2 linked regions of the Homo sapiens genome follow. The protein of the gene in region 1 purifies or fractionates together with the protein of each later gene. This does not show direct contact. Each region holds a gene or a part of one and is shown in the gene's direction. Other genes may lie near its edges.

Region 1 (3,819 bases):
TCTAGGAAACCGTATCACCCAAAACTGGAAGCTTTCATTAGTCACATGTCAAAAGGATCCGGAGCCTCTTTCGAAAGCCCCTTGAACTCCTTGCCTCTTTACCCAAATCACCCATTGTGTGAGATGGGAGAGCTCACACAGACAGGTATGTGTGACCCCCATGCGCTCAGGGGTTCCCCCACCCGCTCTTCTGCTTGCATACCTTCCGAGCAGTTCTCCTGGGCGGGGTGCTGTGCAGCTCAGAGGGGGTAAGCAAGGACTGGCTCTGCAAGGAGCTCGGTCACCAGGGCCTCTAAATAAACATCAGAGTTCTCAAAACTAAATAGAACCTTTCTCCTTCTTACAAAAACAATACGTGTTCATGAAAATAATTTAGGAAAGACAAGTAAAAAGAAGAAAAAGTTTAAGCAACCGTAATTCCACCACAGAAATAGACCCTTAAGAGTAACCCTTCTTCCTGTGCTTATGCACACACACACATCTTACTAAACACACTATTTCATAACCCACTTTTCCACTCAACAACACATTTTGTTAATATTTCCCTATGAATAACTGTTTATCCACTACATCATTTATGATAGCGCCATATTCTTTCACTCTGGATGGGCAATTGATCATTTATTTAACTAATCTCATGTTCTCAGATATTTCTAACAAAACTTCTAATAGGTTTTCATGTACAAGATCTCAGGGAGGAAAATGCATGGCACATTTCTACTGCATGTGGAGTTTGTTTGGCTGAGCTGAGTTCTCACAGAAGCACAGCTTTCCCTCCGCAGCCCTAGTCAGACCATGTGCAGTCAGTTCACCATCAGGGTAGGTTGGTGAGTTAACTGTGGAGTCACCTTTGCTGGGAATAGAGGAACAGGTGGTCCTTCAAGAGGTTTCAGTTTTCTGATTCTTCAATCTGGAACCTCAGAGGACCTTTGCCTGGTCACCAGCCTTTATGGGTGAATTGGGAAGACCCATTGGCCATGTTCTGTCTTCATCTTGCATCAGCATCTTAGGACTTCAGCAGGGATGGAGGGAAGGTCTCCATCCTATAGTAGGCCCTCTTAGGTTTTGCCATTATTATTGGGGAAATGATATTGGATAGACAGAGTGGAACAAGCTGAAGCCTCTGGAGGACTAGCCGTGGATAAGGAGTTGTGTCAAAAGCCTTTGGCAATTAGTTCCACATGCATTACTTTAGAACGAGGGTTTTCATCCTAGCAGATCCAACACCCCCTTTGATTACACAATTAACTATTTTGCAATCTCCCTCAACTATCATGAAGTGAAATTTAAATATAATGTAACCAGCCAGGCATGGTGCCTCATGCCTGTAATCCCAGCACTTTGGGAGGCTGAGGCAGGATAATCGTTTGAGCCTGAGGGTTCGAGAGCAGTCTGAGCAACATAGTGGAACCCCATCTCTACAAACAATTTTTTAAAATTAGCCAAGTGTGGTGGCATGTGCCTGTAGTCCCAGCTACTCAGGTGGCTGAGGCGGGAGGACCACTTGAGCCCGGGAGGTCAAGGCTGCAGTGAACCATGATCATGCCACTGCACTCCAGCCTGAGTGACAAAGTGAGGCCCTGTCTCAATGAATGAATGAATGAATGAATGTAATCTTTCTATGCAGTTAATTACTTAAAAGTTATACCAGGGTCCCCAGCGATAACAAATGAAAAGAAACTAATTTACTACCTAATTATATGTGTCTCTGTATAAATGCTTAAGAACAGCTACACTAGAAAATAGAATGAAATCTTCAAATGCTTGTACCTAAATGTGACTCTGACAACTACAAATGCAGATGATTGATGGATGCTGTATTGTTGACTCTTAATACCACATGTCAGGACATGGTTTTTCTGAAGTTCTGATCAAAACAAAATATAGATGTTCCTTAGTTTATATTGTATTTCTGGAAAATTCAGTGAACATTAATATTATACAAAAATGGTTTTGTGTTCTAGACACAAAAACAGAATTAGATTCTACAGTCTAAAGTATTCAAATATGTTTTGCACGTGATGGAATGTCTCATGCTGCATTCAAAAGTTGTGTGGGACAGAGACACGTGTCCCTTCTGGAGACCAGCCCCCCAGCCCCTACCCACTAGGTGCCAGGAATGCCTTTCCCCATACTATTGTGATAACTCCACCCCCAAGCCCTCTCTGAAGGCAGTAGCACTCTTGCTGAGAACTGCTGCTTAGATTCTCTGGTTAAAAATAACAGAAAACACCTCAAGCAAAAAAAGGAAATTTATTATAAGAATTCAGGAATGACTCACAGACTCTAAGATCAAGAGTGTGACCAGACCTCTAGAGACTGGAACCAGGAATAAAAAAGCTGTCTTGTCCCTGCCTCTCTCTCTAATTTTTTGTTGTGTCTGTCAACAAAATTACAGTCCCAGCCACACACACAGATGAACTTGCAAATCCAAATTCTTGAGAGAGGGAGAATCCTTGAGGTCCTAGGGGTTAGCATCCATCAGCCCTGGCTAACAGGTCAGGGTGACTGTGCAGAGAACAGGAGGTGAGGGCGCCAGTCTCTGGATCCAGGAGCTGCTACCTGAGAAGAGGCTGGGGGGTTGGCCCTCACACACCTAATCATTCATTCAGATCTTTCTTCTCAATTCATCTATCATCATCATCGTTTCTAAATTAGTGTTACTCTAGAAATCATTTTTGTAATACTGTCTGCTCCTGTTTCCTCATTCTCTTTTAATGGTCATTTTTATTTCTATTTTAAATATCATGAAAAATGCATGGCTGTTATAATCATCTTTTGTCCCTGGTGCACTTACGGCACCCTACAGTAACTATGTAAGGTAAGATTGCTCATGAGTGCCTACCCTGTTGAAGATGCTTTGGCAGCTGCTGAGTGTGAGAGGGTAGCAGGATGAATAGGACCCTCCTGCCTGTCCTAAAGAAGGCTGCAACTGCAGCACACAATGTGCGTGGAGACAACTGCCTGTAATGCCAGATACTGCAGGGCCTTAGAGAGTAAACACAGGCCTTGGAGTCAGACAGACCTGTAGCATGGGGAGGAGCCTGTCTTCCCAGTGGCTGGTGGTGAATTTGATGAGGTAGCATGTGTAGAGTGCCTAGTGCAGTGCCGGCATATGAGAGGCTCCCAATAAATGCAGCTGATGTTGTCATGGTCCAGCAGCATATGGGAAGAGGAAGGAATTATTAACTTGACCAGGGAGAAGAAGAAGGAAAGCACTACAGAGCAGGTAGTGTTGGAGCTTGGAGCCAGGCCCTGGGAGGATTTCCCTAGGGAGAGAAAGGGGAACGGTATGAACAAAGCCATGAAGATGCAGGCTATGTTTGGCAAGTATAAGAAGCCCTAAATAGCTAGAACTTTGTATTTCGGCATGAAAATGTAAGGGTCTAAGAGCATAAAATTAGGACCAGATGGGGTCTTGGGTTTTAGCTCTGCCACTTTTTAACTGTAAATGGTTCAGGGCCTTTGTTTCTTCATCTATAAAATAAGGAAAATATAAAATATAATAATATACCTTCTTCATTGGGTTTTTGTGAGGATTAAATGGGAAAGGCCTGGCACACAGTAAGCACTCTAACTTTATGTGGCCTAACCAAATAAAATAGGCCCCGCAGTGAACTAGGGTGAGACACGGAATCTAATGTTTGTCTCTCACGGTTTGCATGTTTTTTTGCAAAGCGTCTTGGAAGTGCTAAATCCTGTTCCAGCCTTTAGTTCCTGGGTTCCTGGGGGAGTTCTGTTCTCAATACTCTTCATGCACAGTAGGACCCAGACATCCTTTGTGGGTTTTGCTGAGCTGTTCCCTTTCCCAGGGGAACA
Region 2 (3,819 bases), on another chromosome or scaffold:
CAGGTGTGGTGGCTCATGTGTGTAATCCCAGCACTTTGGGAGGCCAAGGCGAGTTCGAAAGCAGCCTGGCCAACATGGTGAAACCCTGTCTCTACAAAAAATACAAAAATTAACTGGGCGTGGTGGTGCATGCCTGTAGTCCCAGCTACTTGGTAGGCTGAGGCAGGAGAATCGCTTGAACCCTGGAGGCAGATGTTGCAGTGAGCCAAGATTGTGCCACTGCACTCCAGCTTGGGCGACAGAGTGAGGCTCTGTCTCAAACAAAACAAAACAAAAAGGTTAACCAAAAAAAAAAAAAAAAAAAAGAAAATATATATATATATATATATATATATATGGTGAAATTTCTGGCAGGAGTGGATCGAGGTGCTCAAATGATGTCATCAGGAATCTCTTTTTGTCCCTGTTTCTCACCTCTGCCTTCCCCTCTTTAGTTTACTTCTCAGCAAGCTCTCCTCATATGAGAACAAGGATTGCTGCTGGCAACCCCACCTTCTGTTCTACCAGTTCAGTAACTGCAGCAGAAAGATAGCTTTTCTTTCTCATTAGTGCCAACTAGACCCAGGGCTGCCTGCCTAGCCAGAGGAATGAGTGCCCTTGTTATACCCTTGTTAACCACTGGGATCGTCTCCAGAAATAGGGGAGTGGGTGGGGCTGTCAGTCTCAACTGAACCACGTGAACTGAGAGGAGAGCTTCAGAAGATAATCACAAGGCTGTTACCCAAAGAAGGGCCGGAACAACAGATGTCTTGAAGACACTGGCTTCAGTCAAAACCCATTTCCTCTCCCTGGCTTTACTGGTGACATTGTGTCTGTGATAGCTGTTAGCCCTTTACCTTGCTCTAGAAGTTGTAAAGTAGATTGTTTCTATTTTTAATATCTGGTTAATTAATCTATCTGGGAAACTTGTTTTCTTGCATGGATATATTAATATGGAGCTTTGTTAAACACAGCTCAAGTGTGCCGTTATAAATCTTTCAGTGATGATCAAATATATACCTTTAACTTATATGGTGATTTGATAATTGCATTTGGTCTTTCTCTTGAGATCTAAATATTGTTCATTTTGTTAATGAATGTTATCACATTGTGAGAGAAAAACTTAACCTGACTTTTTTTTTTTTTTTTTTTTTGAGACGGAGTCTCGTTCTGTCTCCCAGGCTGGAGTGCAGTGGCGCAATCTCAGCTCACTGCAACCTGCACCTCCTGGGTTCAAGCGATTCTCTTGTGTCAGCCTCCCGAGTAGCTGGGATTACAGGCACCCACCACAACACCTGGCTAATTTTTGTATTTTTAGTAGAGACGGGGTTACACCATGTTAGCCAGGCTGGTCTCAAACTCCTGACCTCAAGCAATTTGCCTGTCTTGGCCTCCCAAAGTGCTGGGATTACAGACATAAGCCACTGCGCCTGGCCTTAACCATGCCTGCTGCCTCTCCAACAAGCTCTAGATCCACACTTCCTACCAGCTGCCTACACCGCATACCTGGCACCCTGCCTTCCTAAGACTCGGCCTTGTTCATCATGGCACTTTTCCGTTCCTAAGCCCAGATATAGTTTCAGAATAATTTCTCTAACAGTTTGGTGTTCCTCCAACTTTTGAGAGGACTGTCAGAAGATGGAGGAAGAACTTGACCCAGGACCTCAGCAGTCCTTTCCTGGCATTGGTCCCAGTTATGCTTATAGAGCCATTCTTAAGCAAATCTCTTGAAAGGAGAAAGGGGTTACTTTTAGACCAATCTGACCTACCTCTGAATCTCGGGACTGGTCTCCCAAATATTTGTTATGTAGGGGTAGGTTCCTTTATGGAAGAAGAATAGATAAGTGATGCTGGGTAGGCAGCTGGCTGTAATTGTCATGTTGAATAAGCACACCTTGTGGGATGTGTAGCCAATCCCTTTATTCTTTATCTTCCACTGGCTCTTTGTATTGTCTTGCACCCCTGCCCCTGGATGAAAATTCAGGTGGGCCTGATATTTCTGTGGTCACTTCACACTACAGAACAGAATGTGAATTCAGCAATTAGAGTCTTCAGTCCTAAAGCATAACAGAACTTAAAGCCTAAGTTCCTTCTCCCAGTACAGGCCTGCTGCAGGGAGAAAGCCTGCAGTGGAGGAAGGGAGGGTGGCCACAGTGGGCATCTTCTCACTTTTCATCACTTGATGATTCTCTTTCTGCTCTGTAACCTGTTTCTGATCCCTCCTGTGTTGGAGCACATGAAAGAAAGGAAGGAAATGAGGACAGGAAACTTCTTCCTGAATGAGTGCAGGAGCTCTCTGGGATGTTGTGCAGGTGTTAGAGCTTATTCTTTCTTTCTTTCTTTCTTTTTTTTGAGACGGAGTCTCGCTGTCGCCCAGGTTGGAGTGCAGTGGCGCGATCTCGGCTCACTGCAGGCTCCGCCCCCCGGGGTTCACGCCATTCTCCTGCCTCAGCCTCCCGAGTAGCTGGGACTACAGGCTCCCGCCACCTCACCCGGCTAATTTTTTGTATTTTTAGTAGAGACGGGGTTTCACCGTGTTAGCCAGGATGGTCTTGATCTCCTGACCTCGTGATCCGCCCGCCTCGGCCTCCCAAAGTGCTGGGATTACAGGCGTGAGCCACCGCGCCCGGCCAGAGCTTATTCTTTCTTGAGTGTTTTCAAGGGGCATCCTTCAGAGACCACAGCCACCGCCGTGCTCAGGAGTGGTCACCTGCTTTTCCCCTGATGAGACCAAATGCCTCTTCATTCCGTTTGGTTGCTTATTCCTTCCATAGATCCTAAGAATCTGATAATAATGGGAGCTTCTCATTTCAGCCTCTTTTGCCCAGTGAGTAGGCCCAGGGTGACCTTCTGCTGGTTCTTTGTTGTATGTGGCCCACGTCCTTTGCTCAGACTAGGGGAGGGTGGGCTGATTCCAGCGGAGTGACAACTTCTCTCTTGTCCTCAGAGCAATTAGCCAGCCAGCACTTTATATTTTTCAGGTGTTACACAGACATGGTACCCACCCAACTTCATGGACCCATAGTGAGTTCTCTTGGTAATTTTGTTGAGCCCTTTTCTTGGGCGTAAGGAAGTGGGAAACAGACTTCCACTGCTCCCCCTTGAATGAGGTGGAGCAGGCGTCACAGAATGCCAGCTACCTCTGAAAACCTCCTCTGATCGCCACCTCCTGGACCTTTCTACCATGATTTGGATGAGTCTGCAACTGTTCCTTAAGAAACTTTGCATCTTGGCCCAACACTTCACTTTGGAATGTGGTATCTTGTATTTTGCTGCCTCAGAAGAAACTTATTTTTACATGCACAGCTTCTCAATTTGGTTACCAGTTAATTGAGCTTGCCTGGGAGATGAAACTTATTTGCTATTTCTGTGCTCAGCATCCTGGTCACAAAGATGGAATCTTCCTTATCTTCAAATCCCTGTGCCCTGGCAGAGTGCCTGCCTCATTCATTCAGTGACTACTTAATTTTTGAGCACTGTACCAGGCCCCTGGGGATCCAGCAGTGAACAAAGCAGACTTGGCTCCTGCTGACAAGGAGCTTATATTCTGGTGGTGCAGTCAGACATTAACTGCCACTTCATTACTATTGTGAGAAATGCTGTAAAGAAATAGAGCATCGTTGTGGAAGAGACCAGCAGTGAGAATCAGTTTGGTCTGGTGGCAGGGGATCAGGAGATGCTTGCTTTTTTTTTTTTTTTTTTTTTTGAGACGGAGTCTCACTCTGCCGCCCAGTCTGGAGTGCAGTGGCCACTATCTTGGCTCACTGCAACCTCCACCTCCTGGGTTCAAGTGATTCTCCTGCCTCGGCCTCCTGAGTAGCTGGGATTACAGGCTTGCAC

The links.
Region 2: the proteins of PXYLP1 (region 1) and GNPTAB purify together in Homo sapiens (affinity purification with mass spectrometry; 2 studies listed by BioGRID and IntAct, with this or other methods). This does not show direct contact.

Annotation. Positions count from the first base shown.
Region 1 is NC_000003.12:141,287,309-141,291,127, forward strand, and holds part of PXYLP1 (2-phosphoxylose phosphatase 1), read left to right. Parts: intron 1-5; coding exon 6-145; intron 146-3,819. UniProt on the Homo sapiens protein: Responsible for the 2-O-dephosphorylation of xylose in the glycosaminoglycan-protein linkage region of proteoglycans thereby regulating the amount of mature glycosaminoglycan (GAG) chains.
Region 2 is NC_000012.12:101,820,924-101,824,742, reverse strand, and holds part of GNPTAB (N-acetylglucosamine-1-phosphotransferase subunits alpha/beta precursor), read left to right. Parts: intron 1-3,819. UniProt on the Homo sapiens protein: Catalyzes the formation of mannose 6-phosphate (M6P) markers on high mannose type oligosaccharides in the Golgi apparatus.